Linked DNA regions of Homo sapiens. The protein of the gene in region 4 interacts with the protein of the main gene of each other region in a pairwise test. Each region holds a gene or a part of one and is shown on either strand. Other genes may lie near its edges.

Region 1 (8,049 bases), on a different chromosome or scaffold from region 4:
AATGGGCAAAAGCTGGACGCATTCTCCTTGTAAACCGGCACAAGACAAGGTTGCCCTCTCTCATTACTCCTACTCAACATTGTACTGGAAGACCTGGTCAGGGCGACCAGGCAAGAGAAATAAATAAAGTGTATCCAAATAGGAAGAAAGGAAGCCAAACCACCTCTGTTTGCAGATGACATGATTCTATATCTAGAAAACCCCATAGTCTTGGCCAAAAAGCTCCTTCAGCTGATAAACGACTTGAGCGAAGTTGTAGGATACACAATCAATGTACAAAGATCACTAGCATTCCTATACACCACCACCAACCAAACTGAGAGCCAAATCAGAAAGGCAATCCCATTCCCAATTGCCACACACACAAAAATAAAACACCTAGGAATACAGCTAACCAGGAAGGTGAAAGATCTCCACAATGAGAATTACAAAACACTGCTCAAAGAAATCAGAGCAGACATGAACATATGGAAAAACATCCCATGCTCATGGATAGGAAGAACCAATATCATTAAAGTGGCTACACTGCCTAAAGCAATTTATAGATTCAATGCTATTCCCATCGAACTACCAAGGACATTCTTCACAGAGCTAGAAACAATTATTTAAAAATGTACATGGAACCAGAAAAGGAGCCCGGATAGCCAAGGCAATCGTAAGCTAAAAGAACTATACTGCAAGGCTACAATGACCAAAACAGCATGGTACTGGTACTGGCACAAAAACAGGCACATAGACCAATGGAACAGAATAGAGAGGCCATAAATAATGTCGCACATCTACAACCAGCTTTTTTCTTTTTTTTTTTTTTTGACAAAGCTGACAAAAACAAGCGGTGGGAAAAAGACTCCATATTCTATCAATGGTGCTGTGATAACTGGCTAGCCGTATGCAGAGGATTGAAGCTGGACCCCTTCCTTACACTATCTACAAAAATCCACATGAGATGGATTAAAGGCTTTAATGTAAAACCCAACACCATAAAAACCCTGGAAGACAACCTAGGCAATACCATCCTGGACATAGGAGCAGGCAAAGATCTCACGACAGAGGCACCAAAAGCAATCACAGCAAGAGTAAAAATTGACACATGGGATCTAATTAAACTTAGAGCTTCTGCACAGCAAAAGAAACTATCAACAGAGTAAACAGACAACCTACAAAGTGGGAGAAAATTTTTGCAACACTATTCATCTAACAGAGGTCTGATATCCAGCATCTATAAAAAGCCTAAACAAATGCACAAGAGAAAAACAAACAACCCCATTAATAAGGGGGCAAATGACATGAACAGACACTTCTCAAAAGAAGACATACATGTAGCCAAGAAGTATATGAAAAACAGCTCAATATCACTGATCATTAGAGAAATGCAAATCAAAACCACAATGAGATACCATCCCATAACAGTCAGAATGGCTGTTACTAAAAACAAAAAATAGCAGATGCTGGCGAGGTTGCCAAGAAAAGGAAACCCATATACACGGTTGGCGGGAGTGTACATTAGCTCAACCATTGTGGAAAGCAGTATCGCAATTCCTCAAAGAGCTAAAAGCAGAACTACCATTTGACCCAGCAATCCCATTACTGGGTATAGAGCCAGAGGAATATAAAGCATTCTACCATAAAGACACATGCACCTGGACTATTCACTGCAGCACTGTTCACAAGAGCAAAAACGTGGAATCAACATAAATGCCCATCAATGACAGACTGGATACGGAAAATGTGGTGCATATACACCATGGAATATTATGCAGCCATAAAGAAGAACAAGGCCGTGTCTTTTGTGGGAACAGGCATGGAGCTGGAGGCTATAAGCTCAGCAAACTAACGCAGGAACAGAAAAGCAAATCCCACATGTTCTCACTTAGAATTGGGAGCTAAATGATAAGAACTTATGAACACAAAGAAGGAAACAACAGACACTGGGGTCTCCTTAAGGGGGAGGGTGGGATGACGGAGAGGAGCAGAAAAGAGATAACTCTTGGATAGTGAGTTCAATACCTGGGTGATGTAGTCATGTGTGCAACGAACCCCCGTGACACGTGTTTATCTATGTAACAAACCTTCACATGTACCCCCAAACATAAAAGTTTTAAAAAATATTACAGTGCAAGTCTATTGATGATCAATTCTTTCAACTTCTGTATGTCTAAACACCTACTATTTTAACTTCATTTGAAAAGATATTCATTGAGTATAGACTTAAGAGTTGACATTTATTTTTATTTCACGATTTTAAAGATGGTGTGCCACATGACTTCTGACTTGCATATTGCTAATGAGAAATGTGCTGTCATTCTTCTCTTTGGACATCTAAATGTTTCTTATGGTTTTCTTCTGATTTTCTAGTTACTTAGGAGAAAGGGTAAATCTCTGGGCGAGCAGATAGGTAAAATGTCAGGAATGCACACCATGGATTCTCTGTGCATAGCACCTTGGACATACTTTAGATTATGCGTGGCAACGTGGAGGCCTCCTGAAAGCACAGGGCTCAGTGAAAAGAAAATTAAGAAATCCGGTGGATACTTGTATTTCCAGCCATGATGGATTAACAGGAACCGGACTTACCGTCTCGCCTAAATACCTATAAACCAAAAAAATTATAAGGCTTAACGTCATGGCACCACCTGCATACGGGACAGTGATCCCTGAGAGAAAGGGAACCTGACCAGGTGAGCCCTCTGATCGCCCAATTCCACCAACTTCTTGCCCGGATAGAGTTTGCAGGCTGCAGCACAGGGGAGCTGAACACAACAGAGCCCGGTGGACCGTCTGAGTGAAGGAGACAGAGTTGAGAGCTCAAGAGGTCCATAGGACCAGAATTTGCCGGGAGTAATGGAGAGAAGACAGCTGCACAGAGAGGCAGCTCTGGAGACCCTTCAGAGCTTGCCCTTCTGGATGCAGCGTATCAGAAACGGGGAGTGGTGATCGATGACTCCCAGTTTCTGGAGTGAGTGGTTGTGTGGATAATGGCGCCATTTACTGAGACTGTGAAGATGGGTTGGGGGGGGGGGGAACAGGAGCGATGGGGATGTGTGAGTGTATGGGAGGAGTGAGTATACCAAGTGACCAGTTTTGGACAGGCAAACCATGAAGAGCCCTTGAGACTTCCAAGTGGAGATGCCACGTAGGTGGGTGAATGTATGTACTTGGACCTCAAAAGTGAAGTTCAGACTGGGGTTGTAGATTTTTTGGAGTGATTAGCACGTAGCACTTTCTGAAGGCTTTCGTTTGTAGGGTGTGTTCCTCTCCCGCAGAGGATATGTTACAGGGGAAGGGCTAAAGAGGCACAAGCAGCTGACAGGAGAGATTGATATATAACAGCTGGAGAAAACCACAGAGCCAGGCAGAATGGATACTGGTCAGCGGAGAGTAAAAGCTGCTGTCCTAGCAATACCTTCCATTCATACACAGGGGTCCTGGTGAGGCTGACATAAAAACAAATATAAAAATCTACTACGAATTTTACAAACAGTCCAGGTTCGACTGCAGATGAGACCACAGCATTTTCTGCCTCAAAAGACATCCAAGTGGAGATGTCACGTAGGCAGGTGAATGTACTATGCACTTGGACCTCAAAAGTGAAGTTTGAACTGGGCTTGTAGATTGTGGAGTAATTAGCTCAGACACACAGGTGTCTAATTGTCCTGGCGGACACCAGGAGGGTCTCAGCGGCAGCGTGATTGTATCGCTGATAAGGAAGAGGCCTGACAATCTGAGTAGAGAGTGGACCCGGTGGAGCAATTCTCATACCTGGATGGACCCACATAGAGCCGCAGAGGCTGGGGGCGAGGCGGGGGGAGGCTCTGTCTCCCTGTGTCCTGAATGCGGAGCATGAACTTAGGCCTTCTACAGCACAAACCTTGCTTCTTTGGGACAGATGTTGGGGTGGGGGAGGCCTGTCACTCAGACGGAGGAGGCGGTGCCTCTGTCCCCAGGCCAGCAGGAGCAGGAGGTGGACTTTGGAGTCCGGAAGACCCAGGTTCAAATTTTGCATTTTCTGTTTCCTGGCTCTGTGGTCTAGTTCATGCAATGTGTCTGTGCCTCAGCTTCCTGACACGCCAAATGGGGATGCTGACATCCACTTCCCAGCGCTGCTGTGAGAGGAAGAAAAGCCCCAGCACAGATCCCTCTGTGACATACAAGCTGCATAAAGGGTAGCTGAGGAAGCAGATGTTCCCAGTATGTCTGGGGGCCAGAGAGTTGGCTAGTGGAGAAGCACACAAAGCGAAGTGCCATCCTCTGGCCATGTCCATTTCGTAGCCCCGCAGGTTGAGGATTTCCACTTGTTGCAGTTAGAGACCCAGCTTATTAATTGTGAGACCTCACTAATTGTGACCTAAGGGGTCTTGCCGGGGAAACGGGGCATAGTGTATCCCAGACCAGGCTGGAGGAGTTTGGGTGAAAGGGCAGGGCAGGACAGAGAAGCATTGTGCAAAAGTGGGGGGACTGAGAAGAGATGATTGGGTGGGTCGAGCTGCACTGCAGGGTATGAGTGTGCGCGCCCGCGGTAGGAGGAGGAGGAGGAGGAGAGGTGAAGTGGATCTGGCGGGAAGAGCCCCCCGCACCCTACCTTCGACCCCACCGCCCACCCACCCGCGGAATCGCATGCGCACTGGAGACCTGGAGGAAAGGGCTTTTGTTGGGAAAGCGGGCGGGCTGGAGGGGTCCGCGCATGCGCAGGCTACCCAGCCGCGGGGGGTGCACGGAGAAAAGGGGCGGGGTGGTCCGGGCTGCTGTGCTGGCAGCAGTAGGCGAGGGCGCGGCTGCGGGGTTCCTGGTGCTGAGGACGGACGCCATTGGAGTTCCCGAGAAGGTAAGGATCCAGCCCCAGACAGGACCGGGAGAGGGCGAGTGGAACCCGACACGCTGCGCCCTCCCTCCGCCTCCGGATCTGAACAAAGCCCAAGCACTCAGAACCGGAACCCCATTAGACCCAAGGTCTAGATAGGAGCCCCCATCACCATCAGACCCAGGCGCCCCGATCTGAGCCCTACTGAAACCGGAGCCCAGGATCCTCACCCCTTTAGCAGACCCGTGTGCTCCGAGCTGAGCTCCCTTGGACCTGAGGCCCCACCCCCACCCCAACCACTCCTAGATTACTCGAACCGAGCTGACCGCTTGCCCCCTTCCTGGAGTGCCCAGTCCTCGCGTTTGAGATCTGCAGCGCTCCGATTGGAGCCTCACCTAGGTCTGAGGCCCCCACTCCATCCGCCTCTAGTGCTCGAGTCTGAGCCCCACCTAGGCCCCCCGCCCGGACCTAGCCAAAGGTCCCTGGGGTTCTGTTTCGCAGAGCTTGCGGCTTGCCACTGTCCCTGTTGTCTGAGCTCTCCCATCTGCTCCCCCTTCATCCCGGTCCCCTTCTCTGGCCCGTAAATCCAAACCCTTTGTTTCTCTCTTCCCCAATGCATTCCCTTTGGGACTCTTCGGACCCCAGCCCTCCAGAACACCCCCTCGTCAAATCTAGCCGCTGGGATGGCGAGCCTGCCCATCCTAAACTCCGCTTTCAGTGCGGCGCCTCCTGCGACCTCCTCTGTCCCTTTCCTTGGGCTCTGTCCCTGACCAGGTCTACCCCATCAGAAAGCCAAACCGTCTCCCCCCCGCTCCTCCTCCCCCCCCCCGCCCCCTACTGCCTAATATTGCCTAGTAACCTGATGATTGTCGCCCCTCACCTCCCGGGAGATCCCGCCTCCCATTGGATCCCGCCCCCTCCCCCTGCAGCTGCTTCACCCTCCCTCTCAGGCTGAGCTCTCATCTCCCTGGGACCCGCAGCATGGCTGAGGGAAGCTTCAGCGTGCAATCGGAAAGCTACAGTGTTGAAGACATGGATGAGGGTAGCGACGAAGTCGGGGAGGAAGAGATGGTTGAAGGCAACGACTATGAAGAATTCGGTGCGTTTGGTGGCTATGGCACCCTCACCAGCTTTGACATCCATATCCTCAGAGCCTTCGGAAGCTTGGGTCCAGGCCTTCGCATCTTATCGGTGAGGCCCCTTCCTGGACACCTGCTGGCCTGGGCCTTTCCCCTGTGAATGGGGGAGGGAGGAGGGGGGAGCCAGGAGGGTTGTGTGGGAAAGGACTGCCCAGCTTCCCAAGCCTTCCCTCCCCTGCTCGGAAGAAGAAGATTTGGGAAGGTCTTGGGGTGTTCAGGGCTGACTGCTGGGAAGAGGCTGGCCAGCACAGGGAAGCTAACACAAGTATGTCGTCGAGTGGCCTGCCTTCCCCAACCCCTCTCTCTGGCCTTGCAGAATGAGCCCTGGGAACTGGAAAACCCTGTGCTGGCCCAGACCCTGGTGGAGGCATTGCAGCTGGATCCGGAAACACTTGCCAATGAGACGGCCGCCCGTGCTGCCAACGTAGCCCGCGCCGCCGCCTCCAACCGTGCGGCTCGGGCCGCTGCCGCCGCTGCCCGTACCGCCTTCAGTCAGGTGGTCGCTAGCCACCGGGTGGCCACGCCGCAGGTCTCAGGAGAGGATACCCAGCCCACGACCTACGCCGCCGAGGCTCAGGGGCCCACCCCTGAGCCACCCCTTGCTTCTCCGCAGACCTCCCAGATGTTAGTCACCAGTAAGATGGCTGCCCCCGAGGCTCCGGCAACCTCCGCACAGTCCCAGACAGGCTCCCCGGCCCAGGAGGCTGCTACTGAGGGCCCTAGTAGCGCCTGTGCTTTCTCTCAGGCTCCGTGTGCCAGGGAGGTGGACGCCAACCGGCCCAGCACAGCCTTCCTGGGCCAGAATGATGTCTTCGATTTCACTCAGCCGGCAGGTGTCAGTGGCATGGCCTTCCCGCGCCCCAAGAGACCTGCCCCAGCCCAAGAGGCTGCCACAGAGGGCCCCAGTGCTGCCTCTGGTGTGCCCCAGACGGGACCTGGCAGGGAGGTGGCAGCCACCCGGCCCAAGACCACCAAGTCGGGGAAGGCGCTGGCCAAGACTCGGTGGGTGGAGCCTCAGAATGTTGTGGCAGCAGCTGCTGCCAAGGCCAAGATGGCCACGAGCATCCCTGAGCCGGAGGGTGCAGCTGCTGCCACTGCTCAGCACAGTGCTGAGCCCTGGGCCAGGATGGGAGGCAAGAGGACCAAGAAGGTGAGATCCCCCTGCCCCCTGCCACCTCCACACCCCCTTGCTCCTGTCCTTTCCTTCTCCTCCCTTTCCTGCTCCTCTCCTCCCTCTCCTCTCCCCCTTCTTCCTCTCTTCTCCTCTTTCCCCTCCTTCTCTCCTCACCTCCCCTCTCCTCCCCTCCTCTCCTCTCAGCTAGTCCATGTTTCTCCAACACAAGTTTGCTGAGCATGTTTTCACTCCACGTAGTCCCTACCCTCAGGACTGGTGGGAGAAGAGGCTGGCTCAGTGCCTGGCACTTAGTAAGCACGCAGCACATGCCAGCCGCTGCTGGTACTGCTCTCATTTCCAAGAGCCTGCTACGGGTGAGGTGCGTGCCGGGTGCTTTGGCACGGGGAGCCTGGTAGCCCTGGGTCTCTCCTCTCTCAAATGATACAGTCCAAGCACCTGGATGATGAGTATGAGAGCAGCGAGGAGGAGAGAGAGACTCCCGCGGTCCCACCCACCTGGAGAGCATCACAGCCCTCATTGACGGTGCGGGCTCAGTTGGCCCCTCGGCCCCCGATGGCCCCGAGGTCCCAGATACCCTCAAGGCACGTACTGTGCCTGCCCCCCCGCAACGTGACCCTTCTGCAGGAGAGGGTAAGAAGCCCACCCTCCCCCATCTCCTTCCTCTCCTCCCTTGTGGGCCACGTCTCTGCTGTCACCCATGCCTTGACCTCCCCGCATGTTCCTCCTTCTCCAGGCAAATAAGTTGGTGAAATACCTGATGATTAAGGACTACAAGAAGATCCCCATCAAGCGCGCAGGTAGGCAGCCTGTGCCCCCTTCACCATCCCCTAGTCTGTGGGCATCCCTTTGCTTGCGTGCCACGGCTGGTCCCTCCATAGCCACAGGACGGGGTCCTGGCTGCGTCACCCTCGGCAGAGCTGACCAAGGGGCTACAGCTCTATGACCCCTGCTCAGCCCAGGTGCTTTCTCCAACTCTT
Region 2 (5,533 bases), on a different chromosome or scaffold from region 4:
TGCCTGCCCCCCCGCAACGTGACCCTTCTGCAGGAGAGGGTAAGAAGCCCACCCTCCCCCATCTCCTTCCTCTCCTCCCTTGTGGGCCACGTCTCTGCTGTCACCCATGCCTTGACCTCCCCGCATGTTCCTCCTTCTCCAGGCAAATAAGTTGGTGAAATACCTGATGATTAAGGACTACAAGAAGATCCCCATCAAGCGCGCAGGTAGGCAGCCTGTGCCCCCTTCACCATCCCCTAGTCTGTGGGCATCCCTTTGCTTGCGTGCCACGGCTGGTCCCTCCATAGCCACAGGACGGGGTCCTGGCTGCGTCACCCTCGGCAGAGCTGACCAAGGGGCTACAGCTCTATGACCCCTGCTCAGCCCAGGTGCTTTCTCCAACTCTTCCCCCTCCTGCAGACATGCTGAAGGATGTCATCAGAGAATATGATGAACATTTCCCTGAGATCATTGAACGAGCAACGTACACCCTGGAAAAGGTGGGTGCAGGATGGGAGCAGCTCTGTGGGGGAAGAGCGGGCATGGGGGTGCGGTGACCCTGCAGCCCCTCAAGGCCCAGTCTCTGGAGCCATCTCTCACCTCTCCGACTCTGAGCTTCCACTGCACTGGCAGTTTGACTCGTGCTTCCTGCCCTCGGCTTCTCTCTCTCATGCTCTCTGAGTGTCTCGCCGTCTGGCCAGGTGGGTCTCATCGCCTCTGCCAGCGTCAGCTCCCACAGCGAAGGTCTTCCGTGTGCTGTCTTCTTCTGCCCTCGCTCACGAGTTTGGATTCCTTGCTGAGGAGCAGTTCTAACCCGGAATCACTGTCTGCCGGCAGGATGCCCAGCATGGGGTTTGGATCTCACACTCTGTTTTCTCCCCCACGTAGAAGTTTGGGATCCACCTGAAGGAGATCGACAAGGAAGAACACCTGTATATTCTTGTCTGCACACGGGACTCCTCAGCTCGCCTCCTTGGAAAGTAAGAAAGGGAAAGCGGGTCGTGGCCTTCCTCGGTGGTGTCCCTTCCCTGCCCACACCCCTTCAGTGAAGCAGGAAGACGGGGCTTGAGTGCGGCGCACCGCTCCCACACACAGCGAGGGCTGCCTGGTGACTGCTGGATGAAAGGAATGATAGCCTGGGGTGAGGCCTTGCTGCCATCAGTTCTCCCCAAGCTGCTGCCGGGCTTTATCCCCAAAGCTTCGGAGGAAAGTGCCTCTTCCTCCTGCCTGCCTGGCCTGGGCCTGGCAGAGCTGGCCTAGGGGAGAGCTGCCTCTTCAGTGTAGGTGCTGATGTGGAAGGGGCAGGAAAGGTCTGGAGCCATCTCTGGGCACACGTTTGCCATTTGCAGAGCTTCGGCTCCCTGCCTCGCCCTGTCCTCTGCAGAACCCTGTCAGGGAAGTGTTAGTACCCATGTTTTATAGAGGAGGCGATTAAGTCTCAGGCGGAGGTGCGAATGGTCTGTCAGCAGCTAGTGAACTGTGCCTGTCCTGGGAAGAGTTCCCCTCAAGCTGGGAAACCTGAGAGAGGCTAGTTGGGAGAGCCTGGTGGTGTCTCTCAGGCAAATAGCTGCTAAACAGGATTTCTCTTTCCACACCTTTAGAACCAAGGACACTCCCAGGCTGAGTCTCCTCTTGGTGATTCTGGGCGTCATCTTCATGAATGGCAACCGTGCCAGCGAGGGTGAGTGGCTGGACCTGCAACTGGGGGGCTGCCCATAGTCTCATCTTCTGGGTGCCAAACTCTCGTACCTCCTCTCCCCTCGCAGCTGTCCTCTGGGAGGCACTACGCAAGATGGGACTGCGCCCTGGGTATGATTGGCCTCTCCAGCTCCTCCCCTCGGTGCTATCCTCTGGCCAAAGAGGTCCTGGGATTGCAATAGCCTGGTGGTCTGGCGCAAGGGCGTGGGGTGCCCTGGGCTCGGTAGAGAGCAAAGGATCTCACCAGGGCGGATGGGGAAGCGGTGCTGGACGCTGCTCAGCCCTCTCTCTGCTCTGTGGCCCCAGATGACATCTAAGAGAGACAGTCAGAGTCAGGGATTCCATCAAATCCCTACCTGGGGCGTCCCTGACCAACAGTCCTCTGGCCTCTGCTGCATGCCCAGGCCTCCACAGCGACTCCCCGGGGGCTGGGAAGTCATAGTCATGCTAGGGAGGGCCCCTGCCACCGTCTCTGCTCATGGATTCCTTTCCTTGCCCTCAGGGTGAGGCACCCATTCCTCGGCGATCTGAGGAAGCTCATCACAGATGACTTTGTGAAGCAGAAGTAAGTATCACCTGAGCTAACTGCGGCTCTCACTCGAGCATCCTTTGTGTGCTGGTCTGGCTGAGAAAGCAGTTCCCTATCCCAAATCTTCAACTGGAGGGATGGGTGCCTCTGACCTGGGAGTGAGTGGCAGTGGGGGGTATGCGAGTGTGTGGGGAGCCGAAGGCCAGGGCGGTCTTGGGAAAAGGGAGCTCACGTCACCTGAGAACACGGTGTGGGGTGTGAAAACGGCCGCCATCACCTTGAGCACCTGCCCTGTAGACTGACACAAGAGTTCCCCCTGGTTTACACCTAAGGAACCCGGAGCTCAGAGAGGAGACGCCTCTGAGCATGGCTCCCAGCTGGTAAGGGCCTCAGCCCAACTCTCCTGATTTTCAGGCCAGGGGCCACCCTCTCCCCGTCCCTGGAGGACTTGCCAACGCACAGGCGCGCATGCACACCAACAAAGGGTCAGGACTTGAGGAGGATGCCTGGAGCACGCTTCTCCTGGCTGACTGTTTCTTCCTCTCCAGTCGTTTCCTCTGGTGGGCCTCTCCAGGGCTCCGCCGGGGTGTGGCCAAGACCCTCGAGGTGGGGTGTGCTCAGAGCAGGGGGCCTGAAGAATGGCTCCTCTGTTTACAACACACCCAACAGGAAGCTGGGGTCATCGTGATGAGGGGCACAAACTTGTGGCCTCCCTACAGACAAATGCCCTACATGTGGACCCCCTGCACCTCCGCATGGCTTCCGGGGAGGACCAATGGCAAAAGGCTTTGAAGGCCTCACTTTTGCAGGCAGAAGTCCTGGGAGTGGGTTTGGGAATGAGTGAAGGGCTGGAGGGGCAGGACAGTCCTCTTCCAGGAGCTGAGCTGCGGCATCGGGTTGAGGAGGGGCCCCCTGGAACCCATCCGTTCAGCAACAGGTCTGCTTGGCTAGCAGCAAAGTTTACTTTCCTCTCATGCCAAGGTACCTGGAATACAAGAAGATCCCCAACAGCAACCCACCTGAGTATGAATTCCTCTGGGGCCTGCGAGCCCGCCATGAGACCAGCAAGATGAGGGTCCTGAGATTCATCGCCCAGGTAAGGGAGCGCCTCTGTTGGGTGCCCGGCACCGGGGGTGGTGCTCTCCACACCTTGCTTGTTTCTTGGTCGAGGCCTCCTTCCCATTACCCCGTATTCCAGTGAGGGTACCAAACACTCACAGAGGCACCTGAGCACCCTACACAAGGTCACAGATGGGGCAAAATCCCAGGTCTGGCACAGGAGAGTAGGAGCCCCCAATCCCTGTGGTCCTGATTTTTGCCATCATTGCACAAAGCACACGGGAGGGGGTGAGGCGGGCCGCGGGTGCTCAGCCAGTGTGGGGTAGCTCTGTGTCTATGCCTGCCCTTTTCCTCCTCAGAATCAGAACCGAGACCCCCGGGAATGGAAGGCTCATTTCTTGGAGGCTGTGGATGATGCTTTCAAGACAATGGATGTGGATATGGCCGAGGAACATGCCAGGGCCCAGATGAGGGCCCAGATGAATATCGGGGATGAAGCGCTGATTGGACGGTGGAGCTGGGATGACATACAAGTCGAGCTCCTGACCTGGGATGAGGACGGAGATTTTGGCGATGCCTGGGCCAGGATCCCCTTTGCTTTCTGGGCCAGATACCATCAGTACATTCTGAATAGCAACCGTGCCAACAGGAGGGCCACGTGGAGAGCTGGCGTCAGCAGTGGCACCAATGGAGGGGCCAGCACCAGCGTCCTAGATGGCCCCAGCACCAGCTCCACCATCCGGACCAGAAATGCTGCCAGAGCTGGCGCCAGCTTCTTCTCCTGGATCCAGTAAGAGTTTCGGTAGAGAAATGAGACTCTGCAGGAGGGCTGCGGAGGGGGGTGAGATGTCAGAGGGAGGGCCAGGGTGGGGGCGCTGGGGGCAACGGCAACAGCATGGACGGACACTTATTTTGTTACGTACACCCCTCCCTGGTTCGCGTGTGTCCACGGATGTTGTCACTTTGGTTTCTTGTGCTTTTATAGGCACCGTTGACGAACTGCAGCGATCTTACTGGCCAAGCCAGAGCGCCTCCTCTCAGATTCCTTCTCGACACAGCACCCTAGGCGGCTTCTTCCTGTCAGTCGGAGGTGGCATGCAAGATGAAGCTCTCTTTGCTCTTCCTGCTTTCATTTTGTGCTTTTCCTTGTGTTTTCATGTTTTGGGTATCAGTGTTACATTAAAGTTGCAAAATTAATTTGGATGTTTCTTCCTTTACCTGCACACCCATTGCTATACCTGGCCACGCTTGGGCTTGTAGCAAGGAAACTTCTTCAGGCTCTCTGGGGTAGGTGGGCCCCACCTCTGCCAAAAAGGCCCACAGGGACAGGTGGGATGCTGGGAGGTGCGGAGGTTGGTTACGCCTGAGTGCGTGAGCAGGAGTTTGGAGAGGCCCCAGTGCTCATCGTTATGTGATTTTCTACAAACCTTGCTCAGCAGCCCCAGGGACATGGCAAGAGTCGGGGCCACAGCAGGGGCGGGGTGGAAAATTGCAGCTTGGTGCCACTGCCCCTCCCGCCGAGGGACAGGGTCCAAGGCTCTCACCAGGACCCACCTCCCACACCCCCTCCTTGGAGATGATGTTCCGGAACCCTTGGCTCATCATCCACACAGTTCAGGACCCCGTCCTCGGTACAGAGTCTGACGGACAATGAGGTGGGCCCCGCAGTGATGTTCGCAGCCCTCCAGTGGGTAGAAGGAGGGGCCGTGATTGCTGAGGGAGCAGGATGTAATAAAAACAACGCACGGTGCACGCGTACACAGCCCCTTGCCTGTGACGGAACGGCGGCCTGTTTGGAGCTTCGCAGCCCTTCTCCCCCAGCAGCAGGGCTCTCCCAGTGAGGACAACACCAGGCCTACCTAGGTCCTGGTGTGTTCAAGGGCTGGGTGATGTCTGGAGGGGTCTGAGGTAGGGCTGCACATGCTTCAGGTACAAGACAGTGAGGGCAGAGACAGTTTGGTCTCCTGGGAAGGGCTCAGTGGCAGGCAGGGACAGTGTCCAGGGCTTCTGGAGTTCCCCGGTAATGTCCAGGGCTTGGGAGGACAGAGCCCTAGATAAGGAGGGAAAACATAGCAGTGGAAGGCTCCCTGCTTCCCACCCCCTCACCCAGCCCCAGCCTCTGTTTCCCCAGGAGGGGCTGCCATCTCCGCCACGGCCAGATCCTGACCCAGACCGGGCTACCTAATTTGGGAGGCCCAGTGGAAAATGAAAACACGAGTCTCCTTGTCAAAAACTATGAAGGATTTCAAAACAACAACAGCAGAGCAT
Region 3 (7,652 bases), on a different chromosome or scaffold from region 4:
AAAAGGGATTTTAGAGTTATCAATTCATCACAATGTAAAAAAGTGAAATAAAATTTCACTGAAAGTCCAAAAATATTTTTCATTATTAAAAAAATACAAAGTTTATACTAATACGATTTTTGATTTTATACATTTGACTCTGAGGCACAATTTTTTTTCCATTATGGAGGAAAAAATCCATATTTTTATAAGTTCCACATTATTGCAATGAACTGTGTATATGCTGGTGAGGGGGAATTGGGACAAATAATTTTTTTTCTTTTTTTACTTTTTGGGACATATAATTTTAATGTACTGTGACTCTGCCATCTAGCTATTATTACTTTTTATACAAGATTTGGAAATATCTCTCTCATTCAGATATTTTAAATGTAATAGCATTTGATATGATATACTCGCACCTAATAATCTGGTCTCCACTAAGGACTTATTGTAATTAAAAAGTTAAACAAGTTAGCTGATGGACAATAAATCTGTTTTAAGGAGGGAAGAGAAAACAGGCCCTTGTAAATATTAGCTCTTAAGTGCCAGCTACTTTATATGCAATATCGTTTGAAAGATCTCCTACCATACTAAATAAAGAATTGGAGGCCATTATCCCTATATTATAATTAAAGGTGGGGGAGGGGAGAAGATCCTCACAAGAATTCACAAAGCTAGATATTATTACCCTTCCTCTCTATTTCTCAACAGATGAGAAAAGTGAGGCCAAAAGAAGCTAAGCAATTTGTTCAAGGCCATCATGCAGCTATGTAGTGGGGTGGATCCGGGTTAATTCTAACTGACTCCCTGAATCCATGCTTTTTGTTCTGAACCTTGCTGCTTCTTACAGCTTCCCAATAGTCCAAGAATGGCTTTGAAGCTTCAAAAAGCATAAAAGGGAGTCTAAACCCTTGGGGAAAAACAAACAAAACAGATCTATACATATACATGTATATATAATTCCCCTCCCCACACCCTCATGCCATGAGCTTTCTTTTTAAGCTCTTCTTAGTGCAGCTTTCAGTCCTTGGGCCCAAATGCATAGCACTAGGTCAACTCTGGGAAGGCTCAGAAAGGCCCTGGATTCAACAATGATAAGTAGCATGGACAGGTGCTTACGAAGTATGGTGACATACCCAGGGCCTGTGTGAGGACTACAAGCACTCAACAAGAAAAAGTTTGTCCAGTGCAAGTCAGAAGTCATATTCGTTCCTAAGGTAAGAAACAGGATTTATTAGAAGGGATAGCTTAATTTATTGTGAAATTCTTCAAAATGCAAAAAGTAACAATTAAATAATCATGAAAATTCAAACCCTGACTACCAGAAGCCACTAGATAAATGTTCAGAGTTGAAATGAAATTGACTCTATCTTTCCCACACTATGCCAAAAAAGCTCCCTGAATTTCCTTTAAAACATTATGTAGTAATAAAGCAAGGACAAAAAGTACTTGAGATAACTGCAAAAAAATTATTTGTATGAATAAGTCTAAGTATACTACTGATGATTTTACCTGGAGATGTTCAAAAGTGAGATAAATTATCAACACTGAAAAATATCAGTATTATCAAAAAGATGATAGCACCTGGAATTTTCAAAACAAGCCTAGAAATCCGTAGCTGAGAGGAAAGGAAAAAAGTGTCCTGGCAGCTGCGCTGACATCACCTCCTCAGATTTGCTTTATTAATCCAATCATATCAGCAGCATAAATGATTAAATCAAAAGACTAACGAGGACTAGTAAACTTCAGTCTAACACTCAATCCAATGGGACGGGGCCCCTTGGCATATCCCTAAGTGGAATCAAGTACTTAGAGTAGGCTAGAAAAGCCTTTGAAAAAAATCACTACACTTTCTATGTATACTCTCCCTGACAGAAGGAAAGCTAATGTAATCTTGTGAAATGTGAATTTTGGACAATAATTTCAAATTAAAAGAAAGTAAAGCAAGCTGTTTCAAATCATTGCATCTTAGAAAGAGGCTAGAAGGTAAAAACAGAAAAGAAAGACACCACAGTCCACTAAACAAGAGGCCAAAAAATATGCAATAAAGCTGTCAAGAGTCACGGATGGCCAATCACCTGCGATTTTCATCCAGCACATCCAAGATCTGCTGGTATGCCCTACGAGTAGAAGACTGGATAAGCGACAAAATGCCACGAGCAGAGGAAAGATTAGCTCCATCTTCAGGTAACATATGGGGAGGACAGACCCGAGCCTGTTGTGGCGATGGTGTCACACTGTTTACACAAGCACAGCAAATGAAGAGAAAAACACTCAAGTCAGATTTTTATAAAACTTCAGCTGAGCAGTCTTTATCTTAATTTTCTTAGTGTTCTTGCCCCTTTCCCACCCTTCACTCTCCCCACAAGAAAACAGTCAAAGAATAAATATTTTGAATTGTTTCCAAAAACTAGCTACAAGGCAGCACTTATAACTTTGTAACCCTAAACATCAAAATAAATAAACTGAATATGAAAGAACTGTAGAGAGGGAAGAGAACTACAGCAATGAATGTGTTCAACCCCTCCCATGGAGAAGCAGCATTCTTTACTTCGTGTTTATATTCCAATTCAATAAACCAACTTCTAAGAAACAACACTGCTGTCGACTTATGGATGATTAGAAGAGTAGGACAGGGAATTCTCACATACAGATGTCAAAGTTTAAACACATGAATCAAAAGTGTGATTCCATAAAAACACCATTTCAAACACTTCGTAAAGCCAATGAAGTTGAAGTTTATGACGAATAAATGACACTGATTTAAGGATGAATTAGTCTTAGAAAATGGTAACAAAGCATTTTGATTGTTTAATTATAGTAAGCATATGTTCTCTAGTTAAATGACTAAAGCATAAAAATATTCCCAAATCTGTGAATACAGCAAAAGAAGGCAAGGACACTTCTTAAATTATCAATGGCTGATAACCATTTCTGGGCTTCTTAGTGACAATAATCTTAATCGTTCTTTCATGTGTGGGCTGAGATTCACAATTTCATTTGACTCCCCTGCCAGTGCTTTCTGAAAGCTGAATGAACCAATTCTTATGGTTCTAACCTAAACTCTTAAGATCTGTGTCAGTATTTTCAGGGAGCTGTTTAACATTACAGTATGATTATCTATTGTGAGGTATTTAACTGACATACAGACTACGACAGTGGAATGAGGGCTCAACATTCTCAACGTCAAGGCAAAACTAACATCAGGCTAAATGTCATCCAATGTGTATTACATCTGAAAGAATAAAAACAAAGCAGATGGTAAACAATTGAAAAAAGAAAATCTCTTATTTTGACTGTGTAATCTTTTCTAACAGCATGTATTTGTTTGGAAACTACAAAATAAGTGGGATAATTTTTGACAGGATAGTTATAGTCATCTGATATTATTCCCAGAGTCCCAGAAAATTAAAAAACAAAATCTCCTCCACAGCTTTATGAATAACTTTGAATGGCTTGGTGATCCAAAGACAGAAGTACCATAATATGAAAACCATGTTTTTCAAAGATTACTTAAAAGATCTAAGCCAAATCTTAACGTATAAAGCAACTATCTATCAAGCCTGATTCACTATAGGATTTAGGTCAAATTTGGTGTCAAGATAAACTCAAATTTTCAGATGCAGTCTCATGACCAGTGACCTTAAATGTCCGTCCAGAGACTGGCAATCTCTGGGAATACATATAAGCCAACATTATCTACTGATCCATGGTAATTGGCAAAACCCATACCAGGCATTCCAGAAGGGTAAAAACAAATAAACAAACAAACAAACAAATAAAAAAAACATCCTATTTGTGAAACAAAACTATATGTTAGTCTTACACTCAGAATTCTCTTTAGGCAGCACTGGGAAAACCTGAAGCTCTTACTGCTTGTGAGAATTAAAAAATGGTCAGTTCTACATCAACATAAACAAACAATCCATCTTACACTCTTCTTGATAGAGCAGCCAGCGTTAACTGCCTAAATTCACTCAAGCAAGTTTTAAAGGACAAATCCGTACTTTGCCTTTGCATTTGGGGGTTTAAATTGAACACTTTGTGTATCATTCTGTACTGATAAATAAACCAGCTATATACTAACATATTAAAGGCTACAATAATCAATATTTAGAATTATAATCTTGGGGCAACAGTATGAATGAACTAAACTCAAATCCATGAAAAAAACTTAATGGATGTTGGCCCATTAAAAATTAAAATAAAAGAAGGGTTACTTCCTCTAAGAGAAATCCTTTTGCCAGAAACAAACAATAATGAATTGTTTATTTAAACTGTAAAAGTACAAGTATTTTCTGTCCATATATAGGAAATGAGGAGGTCATCTTATAAAATAGTCAAACATAAACTTACTTCAGACTAACTGCAAAGAGTTCCTAAGATGGAATGCAGAAGGTTGGATTCTAAAACAATCTATAAGATCTCTCTCAATTCTAAGATTTTACGATCACATGAAATTGGAATACAATGAGAAAAAACCTTACATGATCCTCAGTTATAATTTAACATGAAAAATACTTATGTAGAAAGATAAAAGATGAAATTAAGTTTTTATCAATACTAGTAAAGATATTTATTTCCTCAAAAACCAGCATCAAAAACATAACTTGAGGTTCTAGTTGTTTCTCAAAAGAAATTAACATTTCAAAGATTAGTAAAAAAATTAGCTTTTCATTCATGTGTATGGCAATCCTCCATAAACAAAAAACGAAATCGGGAGTATTTTTTTTTTTTAATTGATGACTACTTTTGCCAGTGTTGTATAGATTAAATGTCCTTGTTTGGTAACATTTAATTCCATCCACAGATGAAATAAATCACCATTAAGACTGCCAAAACTACATTAGTAATTAGAGGCAATAAATAATTTAGCAATTGTCTTTCCTTTTTAAAACTTTAAGCAGTCTTGTTGGTATTTTTTACAAATAAATGTAAAAACAAAAAAGAATAAGCTCCATTTTAGCAATCAGTTTGACAGGAGCTAAAATGTACTCCACAGCTATCAACTGTGGAGGGAAACAGCGCTTTCATCTCCGTCCACTCATGGACCCAACCAAGGTTTAATGACTTCCTGTTTCTGTAGTTTTGACAAGTGAACTATTGTGGAAAATAAAAAAGTAAACATACTGCAAAGGCACTGAGAAGATTAAGTAAATGGCATTATATATATATTAGTAATTTAATAAAAATGCAATTTGATAAACTGATTCCAGTGATATTATAAAATAGCAAAGTCTCAACATTACCTTTTTAAAAGAAAAGATTAGAAAATTTTGAAGAAAGCACTGATGTTTACCATGCTTCATTAGTAATAGCTCTACCTCATGCTTACATGAAATCTTATCACATAAGAGTTACATAAACAACACCAGGGCTGGGCACAGTGGCTCATGCCTATAATCCCAGCACTTTGGGAGGCCAAGGTGGGCAGAGCACTTGAGGTCAGGAGTTCAAGACCAGCCTGGCCAATATGATGAAACCCTGTCTCTACTAAAAATACAAAAGTTAGCCGGGCATGGTGGCATGTGCCTGCAGTCTCAACTACTTGGGAGACTGGGGCAGGAGAATCGCTTGAACCCGGGAGGTGGAGGTTGCAGTGAACTGAGATCACGCCATTGCACTCCAGCCTGGAAGTCACAGTGAGACTCCGTCTCAAAAGAAAAAAACAAAACAACCAAAAAAACACCAGCCAATTGTCAGAATTAAAATTTAAATAAAAATTTACTTGGCATAACTATATCATTATTAAAAGTAAGTTCAAAATCAAGTACCTCTTTGAGTTTTCATAGGAATAATGTTTCCCAACCTGTGAATTTAACCTCTTCGGTGAGGTATCACTCTTCCAAAAAATAGGGTAAAACAATAAAGAGAAAAAATTTTCACTAAAACACAAATATATTAATTTCTCTTGGAATTGTAAATACAGAGGAAATTTTAATATATTGCCACTATCTATGGCAACTGAATAGTTCCTGGAAGCATAATAATAGAACCAGAATAAGAGGAAAACTGTTGGCTTTCGGTGCAGTTTCTTCTGTTGCTTAAGAAGTGTATTAGCTATTGAATACCTGTATTATATACCAAAACGTTGTGCTCCATGAGTGAGTCATTCTCATACCTTATTTTGTCACATGGAAAGAGTGGGTTTAATAATAGCAAAAAAGTGCTTCCAAGCATCGTTTTCATCTATGGGATTATAAAATAAATGACAAACCACACTTATGCTCCATTCTCCTTCAGAAACAAGATAGAAGAAGAAAAGACAGTGCGCTGAAATTAAAAAAAAAAAAATTGGGATCACTGCACCAGGTGACGTTGAATCTGTTGAGAACTATTATACCAACCAAAGCAAAATAAACAAAAAAGGATGCTTGGTCCTTATGTGCATATTATATTTCAGGTTCCTTTCACCAACACATGCAAAATCATATACAACTTCCTTAGATGGTCTAGTTTTTTTTTTTCCTTAATAAAGCATATAATGACAGTTTGAGAAATCCTGAAACAGAGGTACTAAAAAGCCAAACAGGAAGATAATTAGGATAGCATACGTCAATTACCTGGTGAATAGATTAGTATTAACATAATCCTTCAAAATCAAAACAACTACTTGTCAAAAGCAGAGCAGATAAAATCTTACGTGTACTCCGGTGCAGAAATCGGTGCCTGGAACCTTGAAATTTTATTTCTTGGGGCAGAATCTGATCTGTGCCACCTTAAATAATAATTATGCTTCTTTTACATATTCAGCTTTTATAACACAAAGAAAAAGCTAGATCTGATTTTACTGTTTAGAATTCACTTTTGCGCTAATAGCTGACCACAATCTTATTGCCTCTTCGAAGTAATTAAGAAAACAAAGGCTAGTGCTCCTGCTCTCATACCCGTTCGCACTTTTATTCTTAAAGCCATGGAATAAAATAAAGTGGAGACAGGCAAAGTTTCATGCACTATGACGCACAACAATTTCATGTTACAAAGAAAACACTAAAGTAGGTAAAGATAGTAAGAGTTTAATAATTATTTTAATAGAGGTATTATATCAATTGTTTTTTCCTCACTACGTTAACAACACTGAATAATATGTTCATTATACAAAATTCTAAAGTTAGTAAGATGTAGATTCTTAAAGATAAATTGTAAATTATAAAATTAACAACAGTAGGAAAAGAAAGGGCAAAGTTACATTATTAACAAAATACATACATAACATGGTAATATACTTTACAACCATAATGAAAAATATGGTTAAGCAATGTTAAGTGTTTCACTGTGAAAATGTATAAAGATTCATTACTTTTACTATCAAAAATGAGATTTTCAGTTTTACTAAAAATTTAGAAAATGTCATTAAAGCAACTTAAAGAAAAAAAAAGAAAATCAAGTATTAGTTAACACTGTAAATCTTTTCTGTTATGAGGAACTTATGTTATTGAGTAAATACAAAAACATCTATATCATCTACTCTAAATTATACTTCACTGGACTGGTTTTCGTACATAATAAAGGGGTTTCCTTTCTCTTCAGCTGAATGCAGCTATAAATAATATATACTTCGGGAGAAAAAATAAGAGTGGTGCTATATTACAATAATCTTGTTTTTATTAATATAAAATGTCAAAGTAGCTAAGAACCTAAATAGTAAGCCACATCTTTATAAAGTGGAA
Region 4 (8,494 bases):
CTCTGCGGCTCCTACCTGGGTGCAATCGAGTTAAATGGCTGATAAGCAGATCAGGTCAGACTCCAGTCCTGGCTGCGTGCCTCACCCCCACCCTGACCCATGGTCAAGGAAGCCGGTCCTGACACCCCTGTCCACACAGCCTGCCAGCCAAGCTCATCAATGGCGGCATCGCCGGGCTGATCGGTGTCACCTGCGTGTTTCCCATCGACCTGGCCAAGACCAGGCTGCAGAACCAGCAGAACGGCCAGCGCGTGTACACGAGCATGTGAGTGTGCCGGGCGGTCGCGGGGAGTGGGCCCAGCATGTGGCAGCAGGAGAGGTGGGGGCTCTGCTCCTGTGCCCCCCACCCTGTTTGACAGAAGGGAAACGGGAGGCAGGCGGGCCTAGGGGAGATCCCACGTGGGTCAGGACTGGGGTCGGGGCTGGGCTGAGGACTTGGCCTCTTCTATCAGCCCTAGACAGTCCAGGGACCCTGGCCTCCGGCTGGCCCCAGCTGGCCCTGGCTCACCCTGTCCCCTTGGCCACAGGTCCGACTGCCTCATCAAGACCGTCCGCTCCGAGGGCTACTTCGGCATGTACCGGGGTGAGGTTTGGCTCGGCTGGGCTCGATATGGGCAGGCCTGGGTAGCGCCCGCGAGTCGTGGCAGGGAGCGGTGGGGGAGGCAGGGCAGGGCGGCCAGCCTGGGCCTGGTGTGTGAGCGTGGACGTGTTTGTGGGGGCTGTGCCTGTGCAGGGGGGACTGGATCTCTGGTGAGTGGTAGTTCTCAGCCTCTCCCGTGGCAGCTCCCCACCCCCACTTAGTGCCTGGTGCGTGGGATGCCATGGTACATCTGTCTCTTCTCTGGTGGCCACAGCTGCCTCTGCCTTCTGGGCCAGGCTGGACCCCGTTTGTGGCTGGGGATGGGAGGGAGTAAGGGGCATTACCGCAAAGCAGCTTAGGACACAATCCAGAGCCTAGATTTGGCAGAAGCTCTCCAGCCCTGAGCCTTCGGCACTGAGATGGGGGCTCTCCACAGCCTCCCCCGAGCTCTGGCCCAGTCCAGACCACACACTCCTGTGACCTCTGGCCCCAGCCCCCTGCCAGCACAAGCACCATCTGTCCTCCAGGGAGGGAGAGGTATCCTAGGGAGGCCTCAGGGGCTCCGGGGCAGTCCTCATGCCCTGAGCAGCAAGATGCTGCCCAGAATCAGAGACAGATGGAGCTGCAGTGGGCATGGGAGAGCCTGAGCCTGAGGTGCTGCCCCATCCCTGCCTGGCCCCGCCCCACCTGGCACACACCAGGCCCAAATGTGGGTGAGAGAACAGATGGTGGCCAGGAGTGACTGGGACAGGGTTTTGCCAGCCAGGAGGCAAGTCCTGGCCAAGCGCCTCCCCACTCAGGCCACCGAGCATGTCCCCCCAGCTGACCCCCTGCCCCACAGGAGCTGCTGTGAACTTGACCCTCGTCACCCCCGAGAAGGCCATCAAGCTGGCAGCCAACGACTTCTTCCGACATCAGCTCTCTAAGGACGGGTGAGGGTTCTGCCTGGCAGACACTCGAGGGGTCTTTGGCTTCAGATAAAGGATGGGTCCACCCTGCCAGCTGGGTCCCACCTGGGGGCTCTGCCTGTCTTCAGCCCCTTGCTTGGGGCTTCTTTGACCTCGTGGGGCACCCTCCCTCCTTTCCCCTGACCAGGGGAGCAAAGCAGATGTCAAATCAGTGGGGCTCTGGCTTGGTAGCCCTTGGCCTGAGGGCACTGACCAGCTCCCCCATCACTGGAGGGGGACTGCAAGGGCAGCCCCTTTTTGGGGCACTTGACCCCCAATTTCCCATTTTCCTTTGTCGCAGACAGCCCCACTGCCCTCCCCAGGCCCCTGCCTGTGGGGCCGTCTGTCCATCGGTCTCCTCCCTGCCTGCTGCTGCAGTGGCGGAGGCTGGGGGCTGTACCCCCACAGGCCTGCATCTGCCTCCACGGCTCCCACCATCCTCTGCGCCCAGGCATGGTGGGCAGCCCCGAGGGTGGCAGGTAGACCTGTCTCTTCCCACTTACTGCGGCCCCGCCCCTACCACAGGCAGAAGCTGACCCTGCTTAAAGAGATGCTGGCGGGCTGTGGGGCTGGCACCTGCCAGGTGATCGTGACCACGCCCATGGAGATGCTGAAGATCCAGCTGCAGGATGCAGGGCGCATTGGTGAGGGCGGGGGGAGGGGGAGGAGAGGGCAGAGGTGCGGGAAGAGGTGAGGGCGAGGGGAGGGTGGGGACGCAGGGAGGGCCAGAGCGTGTCCCCTGCCCAGTTCGCACAGAAGAGGAGACAGCAGCCTCTTTGTCCCCAGCCGCCCAGAGGAAGATCCTGGCTGCCCAGGGCCAGCTCTCGGCCCAGGGGGGTGCCCAGCCCTCAGTGGAGGCTCCAGCTGCCCCTCGGCCCACGGCCACCCAGCTGACCCGCGACCTGCTGCGGAGCCGTGGCATTGCCGGTCTCTACAAGGGACTCGGGGCCACGCTGCTCAGGTAGGAGGCACAGGGCAGGTGGGGGGAGGGAAGGGGGAGGCCGGCCTGCCCACCCCACCACCTCCTGTCCCCACGGCCACCTCCCTCCCCACAGGGATGTCCCCTTCTCTGTGGTGTACTTCCCGCTCTTTGCCAACCTGAACCAGCTGGGCCGCCCGGCGTCCGAGGAGAAGTCGCCTTTCTACGTGTCCTTCCTGGCCGGCTGTGTGGCTGGGAGTGCCGCCGCTGTGGCCGTCAACCCCTGTGATGGTCAGTGCATGGGATGGCGCCCGGCTGGGGATGGGGCGGGACTGAGCCCTTGGCCAGGCTCACACTGACCCGAGCGCCCCTTGCAGTGGTGAAGACGCGGCTCCAGTCACTTCAGCGAGGCGTCAACGAGGACACCTACTCTGGGATCCTGGACTGTGCCAGGTGGGGAGGTCCCACGGCGGGTGGGGCCTGGGGGCCTGCGTACCGGGCTGACCCTTTCGTCCTTCCTCCACAGGAAGATCCTGCGGCACGAGGGCCCCTCGGCCTTCCTGAAGGGCGCCTACTGCCGCGCGCTGGTCATCGCGCCCCTTTTCGGCATCGCACAGGTGGTCTACTTCCTGGGCATCGCGGAGTCCCTGCTGGGGCTGCTGCAGGACCCCCAGGCCTGAGCCCAGCACCCGCTCCACCCCAGCCAGCTGGGCAGGGCCGGTGTGGGGCTGGAGCCAGGCAGCTAGCCCAGGACGGAGCAAGGGAAGACCCCTCCCCAGCCCTCCCGTCGGCAGGGGCAGCAGGGGGCAGGGTGCAGGGTCCACATAGGTGGTGCACACGCAAGCCCCCCGGGGTGCTGCCTGCACCGTTGGGATCAATGTCTCATTTATGTAGAAAATGCAGAAATCTTTACATTCCTCAAGCTAGCCCCTGCCCCAATCCTGCCCTGGCCTGAACACCCCCAGGGACAGAGCTGGTCTCTGGGCTGGGGGCCCCCGGGCCTGGGCCGGGCAGGCTGGACCATACCCCCAGTCCACCAGCTCCAGTCTCCACAGCCATCCTGGCCCACACAGGCACCCCACACAAACCTATTTATTGAATCTGCTGGACCCAAGCGGCTCTCCAGCCCTTCCGTCCTTCCCCAGCCGCTCTTGTCGCCTTGGCAGGACTTGACTCTGCCTCCCTGGCCAGCCTTGCAAGAGGACTGGGGTCTCCTGCCCTCTCTGTTGAGCCAGGAATCCCAAGTGAGGGGTTGCCCTGAGGTCTGACTCTTGGGGCAAGCCCGCCACCCACTGTGGGACTTTCTGGTGGGCTCCTCAGCTCCCACCCCAGGCTGGGGCCCAGATTGTGAGGTCTGTGTGCATGTGTGTGTGTATGTGTGTGTGCATGCGTGTGTGTGTTGTGGGGATCTGGCCTGGCCCTTGGGGATGGGGCTGCTGGGGACTGCCCCCCTTCCCGCCGTGGCCAGGCGCTCTGTGTGCTGTGTGTGCCCCAGGCTCTGTTGACCCCGTCCAGGAACTAACTTACCCAGCTTGGTCTCTCCTGAGTCCTCCACCCTGGCCTGGGATTGGCCAGGGAGCAGGGCGGGCATTGGGACCAGTGTGGAGCCTGAGGGTGCCTGCCCTGCTCTGGAGGGAGGGCCAGGAGCTGCCACACCCCCAAGTCCTCTCAGGGCCCACCCTCCTTTTTCAGCCTCTGCATAAGGCCCCTGGGTACACTGCAGAAGCCCCATCCTTCCCGCCTCCGGGCATAAGGCCCCTGACCACACTTCAGAAGCCCCATCCCCCCTGCCACCGGGCGATCCCTGCTGTGAGCCGAAGCTCTCCCTGCCCCGCCCTGGCCATGTGATCGTGTTGGTGACAGACCCTGATGTGCTGGTGCTGTGTCCCCAAAACCGGGGCCCTCCACAGAGGCCCCTTCCCAGCGACACTACCTGGGGCTCAGGCCTGGACCCCCCCAGTTCACGGTTGCTCCTGGGAGCTGCCCCTCCCGTCACATCAGAACCTTGGAAGCTGCTGCTGCTGCTTACAGAATTATATTTTTTTCTTTTGAAGAGTTTTAAGAAGTTGTAACTTTTTGTGTCTTGTCATGTCAGAGAATAAATAAATATTCTAAGTAGATGCTGCTGTCTGTCTGGGGGTCTGTTTGGGGGCGGGGGAGGGCAGTCCCCTCTTCCCATAACTGGCTCCCTTCAGACTGCAGGGCTAGGCCTGCGCACCCACCCACCGACCCCTCACCCACCGACCCGTCACCCACCGACCAAGGGGCACCCTGGCCTAGAGGGGATGCTGAGCGGGACCCGCCTCCTGCCTCTGGCAGTCCCAGATGGGACTTGGACCCCGCAGTTGCTCTCTCGGACCCTAAGTTTCTACCCCTGGATCTAAGGCGGAGCTGGGTTTGCGGATCCCACGGTTCCCGGCGGGGCGGGGCCCGGTCGCCCCTCCCCCTCCCCGCCCTCCTGCGCCGGGAGCAGTGCATTGTGGGAAACTCCCGAGCTCTCCTCCGCGTTCGCAGCCGCCGTCATCCCGCGGAGGAGCGCGCAGCCCCGGGGAGGCCGGAGGACGCGTAAGGCGGGGGGCTCCCGGCGGGCGGGGCGGGCGGGGCGGGCGCGGCGTCCTGCGGGGCGAGGAGGCGGCTCCGGGCCTTGAAGGTCACTGGGTTTGCGCGCGGGCCCCCCAGTTCTCCAGGGCTCAGTTGATCCCGGGAGAGGGAGGCGGCGGCCGGGATGTAAGTGCCACAAATAGCGAGGTTGGGGGGGCAGACCACCTGCTCTTTGCAAACTTGATGCCCAGCAGCTGAGCCCCCCGAGAACTGCAGGGGTGAAGGGACGGCTGGGCTTCCCTGGGAGGTGGCAGCAGCTGGGCCTCTTCTGGAGACGCCCTCATCATGCTGTGACCTTCGGGTGACCTTCAGTGTGGTCAATGCACCTGGCGGGGGGTGGGGAACGTGCCTCCCTTTCTCTGCAGGTCTGGAGGGCATTTCTCATCCTTCCCTGGGAGAGGCAGACAGGCGGCCTCTGGGGCTTTGGGGCAAGACCCACTCAGGTTCAGGGCGGCTGGGCCCCCAGGGCCCTTCCCACCTCTGCCTCGGTCATTGAGAATCTGGGCACCGCCTTTCCCACAGCCCAGAACCCTGTCCTCCGCCCTGACCCGCGGGCCAAGTGCAGCATGTGCCCACCCTGTTTAACGCCAGGAACCCTCTGCCCACAGAGACAGCACAGCCTTGGGCTGGGCGAGGACTCCCTGCTCCAGGGCTGGAGGCAGGCACGGCCCATGCTGAGGAGGGGGCCCCAGAGGCTGGGGAGGGGCAGACGGCCCTTGGAAGCACAGCCCCACGCTGACTTCCTGGAGAGACACCCCAGTTTTCTCAAGTCTGGGTTCTTGTGGGCCCACCCACCCTGATGGCTGCCTGAGATCCCAGCTCCTGCCCCTCCCCGCCCTCCTCCCCCTGGGACCCTGGCCAGGTCACAGCCTCCGTGCTTTAGTGTCCATCTCTGCAAAGCAGGAATGCTCTCCTGAGGAGGGGATGCAGTCAGCTCTCCCACTGGGGCTCCGATCACCTCCTTGGAGGGGAGAATGCTCTTCCTTCGAGTTCTCTGGGCCTGATCCTTACTTCCCCACCAAGAGCCTCCTGCCCCCGGCTGGTGGGAGGATGTGGCATTTGCATGGGCCATTTTATGGAGCACAGTGGGGTCCCCTACCTCCTCCCACCTGTGCGTGGCCCTTGCCTCTGCGGCTGGAGGGGCCCCTTGAGGAGTGGTCATGGACAGATGGAGTCCAGGCCGTGAAAGAGAAGTGTCAGAGGCCCACGGGAGGCCCCTGAGCTGGGGCTCCAGAGAGTCCAGAGAACTGGGCAGGGGCTGCCTGGGGACCAGGTGGTCGGGGCAGCACAGGGGGGACTGGACCCGCGCGCAGCCTCCCTTGTGTCTCCCTCCAGGCCCATAGAATGCCCAGGGGCGACAAACTGTCCTGAGCCCCTCTGGTGCAGCCACCTGCCTGTCCCATACGCCCCGCCCACCATGGAGTCCAGAGGGAAGTCAGCCAGCAGCCCCAAGCCCGACACCAAGGTGCCCCAGGTCACCACCGAGGCCAAGGTACCCCCGGCAGCCGATGGGAAAGCCCCCTTGACCAAGCCCTCGAAGAAGGAGGCCCCGGCCGAGAAGCAGCAGCCGCCAGCAGCCCCCACCACGGCACCTGCCAAGAAGACCTCGGCCAAGGCCGACCCTGCCCTTCTCAACAACCACAGCAACCTGAAGCCAGCCCCCACGGTCCCCAGCAGTCCCGATGCAACCCCGGAGCCCAAGGGTCCTGGGGACGGGGCGGAGGAAGATGAGGCTGCCAGTGGGGGGCCTGGGGGCCGAGGTCCCTGGTCCTGTGAGAACTTCAACCCCCTGCTGGTGGCTGGGGGTGTGGCCGTGGCAGCCATAGCCCTGATTCTCGGTGTGGCCTTCCTGGTCCGGAAAAAATAATACCTGGGGGCCAGGCGGGGGGCACGGAGCCACTTCCTGTACAGACCCGAGGAAGCCAGTGCATGCAGAGTTCACCCTTACCTATTCGTACACACGCACATTCATTACACACCTACATACGCCCCCAACACACGCGCACGGTGAAGAGGACGCCCGAGCCCACCCCTGCTGACCCAGGACTTCCCCAACCTCCAGGGCAGAAAGAGCCCAGGCTCCGGGGTCCACAGCACAGGATGTGGGGCGAGGGCACAGCTGGGGAACGGCAAGAAAGGAATGGACCCTGTGTGTGGCCCCCCCCACCCCTGGCGGCTGGGTGATCCTGGGCCCCCAGGGCTGGTCTGAGTGCAGGTGGGGGTGCCGGGATGGGTTGGGCCTGGGCCCGGCCCTCGTGGGGACATTAAAGGGCGCGGTGGCTCCACTCGCCCCATTTCTGCTCTTTGCGTACCCCCCGGGGGTCTGCCTGGGCGAATGCAGTGGGACGGACCTGGGGTGGGCACTCACCTCAGCAGAGCCTCAATGCCACCTCCCCACACCACCCAAGCCTAGCTGGGTGGGAAGACGGAGCCCTGAAGCCTGCGTGTGGAGGGGGTGCTGCCCAAGGGTCGCCTTCCCCAGCTTGTGCTCCAGGGGAGCCCCGACGCCGGCGGGGAGGCAGGGATGTCGAGGGCCCCTCACAGCTGTGCCCGCCCTGCCCCGCTAGACTGCCCCTCCAGCTTGCACCCAGCACCACCTGAGTCTAACCAGCGTATAATGCAATAACAGGTAGAGTAGAACTGCTTTTGGCGGCGACCGTCACACACTGTCCTCAGCCCACTGCACCTGGGGAAGCCCCTCGTGCAGCCCCTCCTTAGCACATCCAGTCCCAGCGTGGCCCTTGGCGCGCAGCAGCAGGCGAACTCCCAGAAGGTGGTGGTGGGCACTGTGAGAACGTGGCCTGCCCTCACTGGCCAGTGGCCACAGGAACCCCGGGCCTGAGTGGAGGCTGAGTCTGAAATAAACTCTGTCGTCTGAAGGCTGCTCTTGCATCCTCATCTGCATGTGGCTGGGAGACGCAGGGTCGCATGTGTCACGCCCACACCCCAGGCTTTCCAGGGAGGGATGCTGCATCCAGGACCCTCTGACGGGACCCCCTGTCACTCCTATGCCCTTATTCCAGGGGCCTCGGCCCGGATCGCCACCCAGGCCCTGCTCCATCCTCCTCCCTGGCCTTCCTGTGGGTCCTGACCCAAGATGGACACCCAGGGGCTACAGGACCAGGAAGCAGTGAGGACATGGGGTGCGGGGAGGGCAAGCCCTGCTTCTCAGGCTGAGCTCTCCAGCCAGGCAGGGGCCCTTCCGCAGCCCCCACTGCAGCGAGCCCCACATCCTGAGTGCAGAAGAGGCTCCCCTCAACACCTCTCATCCATGGACCCCAGCCCACTCTGACCAGGTGTCCAACCGGCGGGCCTGCTGGTGGGCCTGGCCACGGGTGGGGCTGCAGCATGCGGGCCAACAAGCAGCAAGGCCTGCGGTGCCTGGGAAGGGCTCCTTTGAGCTCTGTCTTCCTGGCTCTGGGTCTCACCCGACAGGTGGCTGAGGCC

What was found.
Region 1: the proteins of CEND1 (region 4) and MAGED4B interact in binary tests that used the Homo sapiens proteins (3 or more experiments, as listed by UniProt).
Region 2: the proteins of CEND1 (region 4) and MAGED4 interact in binary tests that used the Homo sapiens proteins (3 or more experiments, as listed by UniProt).
Region 3: the proteins of CEND1 (region 4) and MFF interact in binary tests that used the Homo sapiens proteins (3 or more experiments, as listed by UniProt).

What each region holds. Positions count from the first base shown.
Region 1 is NC_000023.11:52,065,903-52,073,951, reverse strand, and holds the start of MAGED4B (melanoma-associated antigen D4), read left to right. Parts: upstream 1-4,768; 5' UTR 4,769-4,822; intron 4,823-5,727; exon of another isoform or gene 5,728-5,748; 5' UTR 5,749-5,779; coding exon 5,780-5,989; intron 5,990-6,253; coding exon 6,254-7,087; intron 7,088-7,498; coding exon 7,499-7,702; intron 7,703-7,805; coding exon 7,806-7,869; intron 7,870-8,049. UniProt on the Homo sapiens protein: May enhance ubiquitin ligase activity of RING-type zinc finger-containing E3 ubiquitin-protein ligases. Proposed to act through recruitment and/or stabilization of the Ubl-conjugating enzyme (E2) at the E3:substrate complex.
Region 2 is NC_000023.11:52,187,807-52,193,339, forward strand, and holds the end of MAGED4 (melanoma-associated antigen D4), read left to right. Parts: coding exon 1-39; intron 40-142; coding exon 143-206; intron 207-399; coding exon 400-479; intron 480-867; coding exon 868-959; intron 960-1,580; coding exon 1,581-1,660; intron 1,661-1,745; coding exon 1,746-1,788; intron 1,789-2,179; coding exon 2,180-2,242; intron 2,243-2,538; coding exon of another isoform or gene 2,539-2,586; intron 2,587-2,815; exon of another isoform or gene 2,816-2,942; intron 2,943-3,187; coding exon 3,188-3,302; intron 3,303-3,624; coding exon 3,625-4,055; coding exon of another isoform or gene 4,056-4,059; exon of another isoform or gene 4,060-4,067; intron 4,068-4,250; coding exon 4,251-4,260; 3' UTR 4,261-4,462; downstream 4,463-5,533. UniProt on the Homo sapiens protein: May enhance ubiquitin ligase activity of RING-type zinc finger-containing E3 ubiquitin-protein ligases. Proposed to act through recruitment and/or stabilization of the Ubl-conjugating enzyme (E2) at the E3:substrate complex.
Region 3 is NC_000002.12:227,341,793-227,349,444, reverse strand, and holds part of MFF (mitochondrial fission factor), read right to left. Parts: intron 6,701-7,652; coding exon of another isoform or gene 6,626-6,700; intron 2,220-6,625; coding exon 2,061-2,219; intron 1-2,060. UniProt on the Homo sapiens protein: Plays a role in mitochondrial and peroxisomal fission. Promotes the recruitment and association of the fission mediator dynamin-related protein 1 (DNM1L) to the mitochondrial surface.
Region 4 is NC_000011.10:786,547-795,040, reverse strand, and holds CEND1 (cell cycle exit and neuronal differentiation protein 1), read left to right. Parts: upstream 1-4,950; 5' UTR 4,951-5,011; intron 5,012-6,382; 5' UTR 6,383-6,464; coding exon 6,465-6,914; 3' UTR 6,915-7,926; downstream 7,927-8,494. Other genes in the region: SLC25A22 (mitochondrial glutamate carrier 1), read left to right, coding at 35-54, 140-265, 453-583, 1,422-1,512, 2,053-2,171, 2,314-2,488, 2,583-2,737, 2,824-2,899 and 1 more.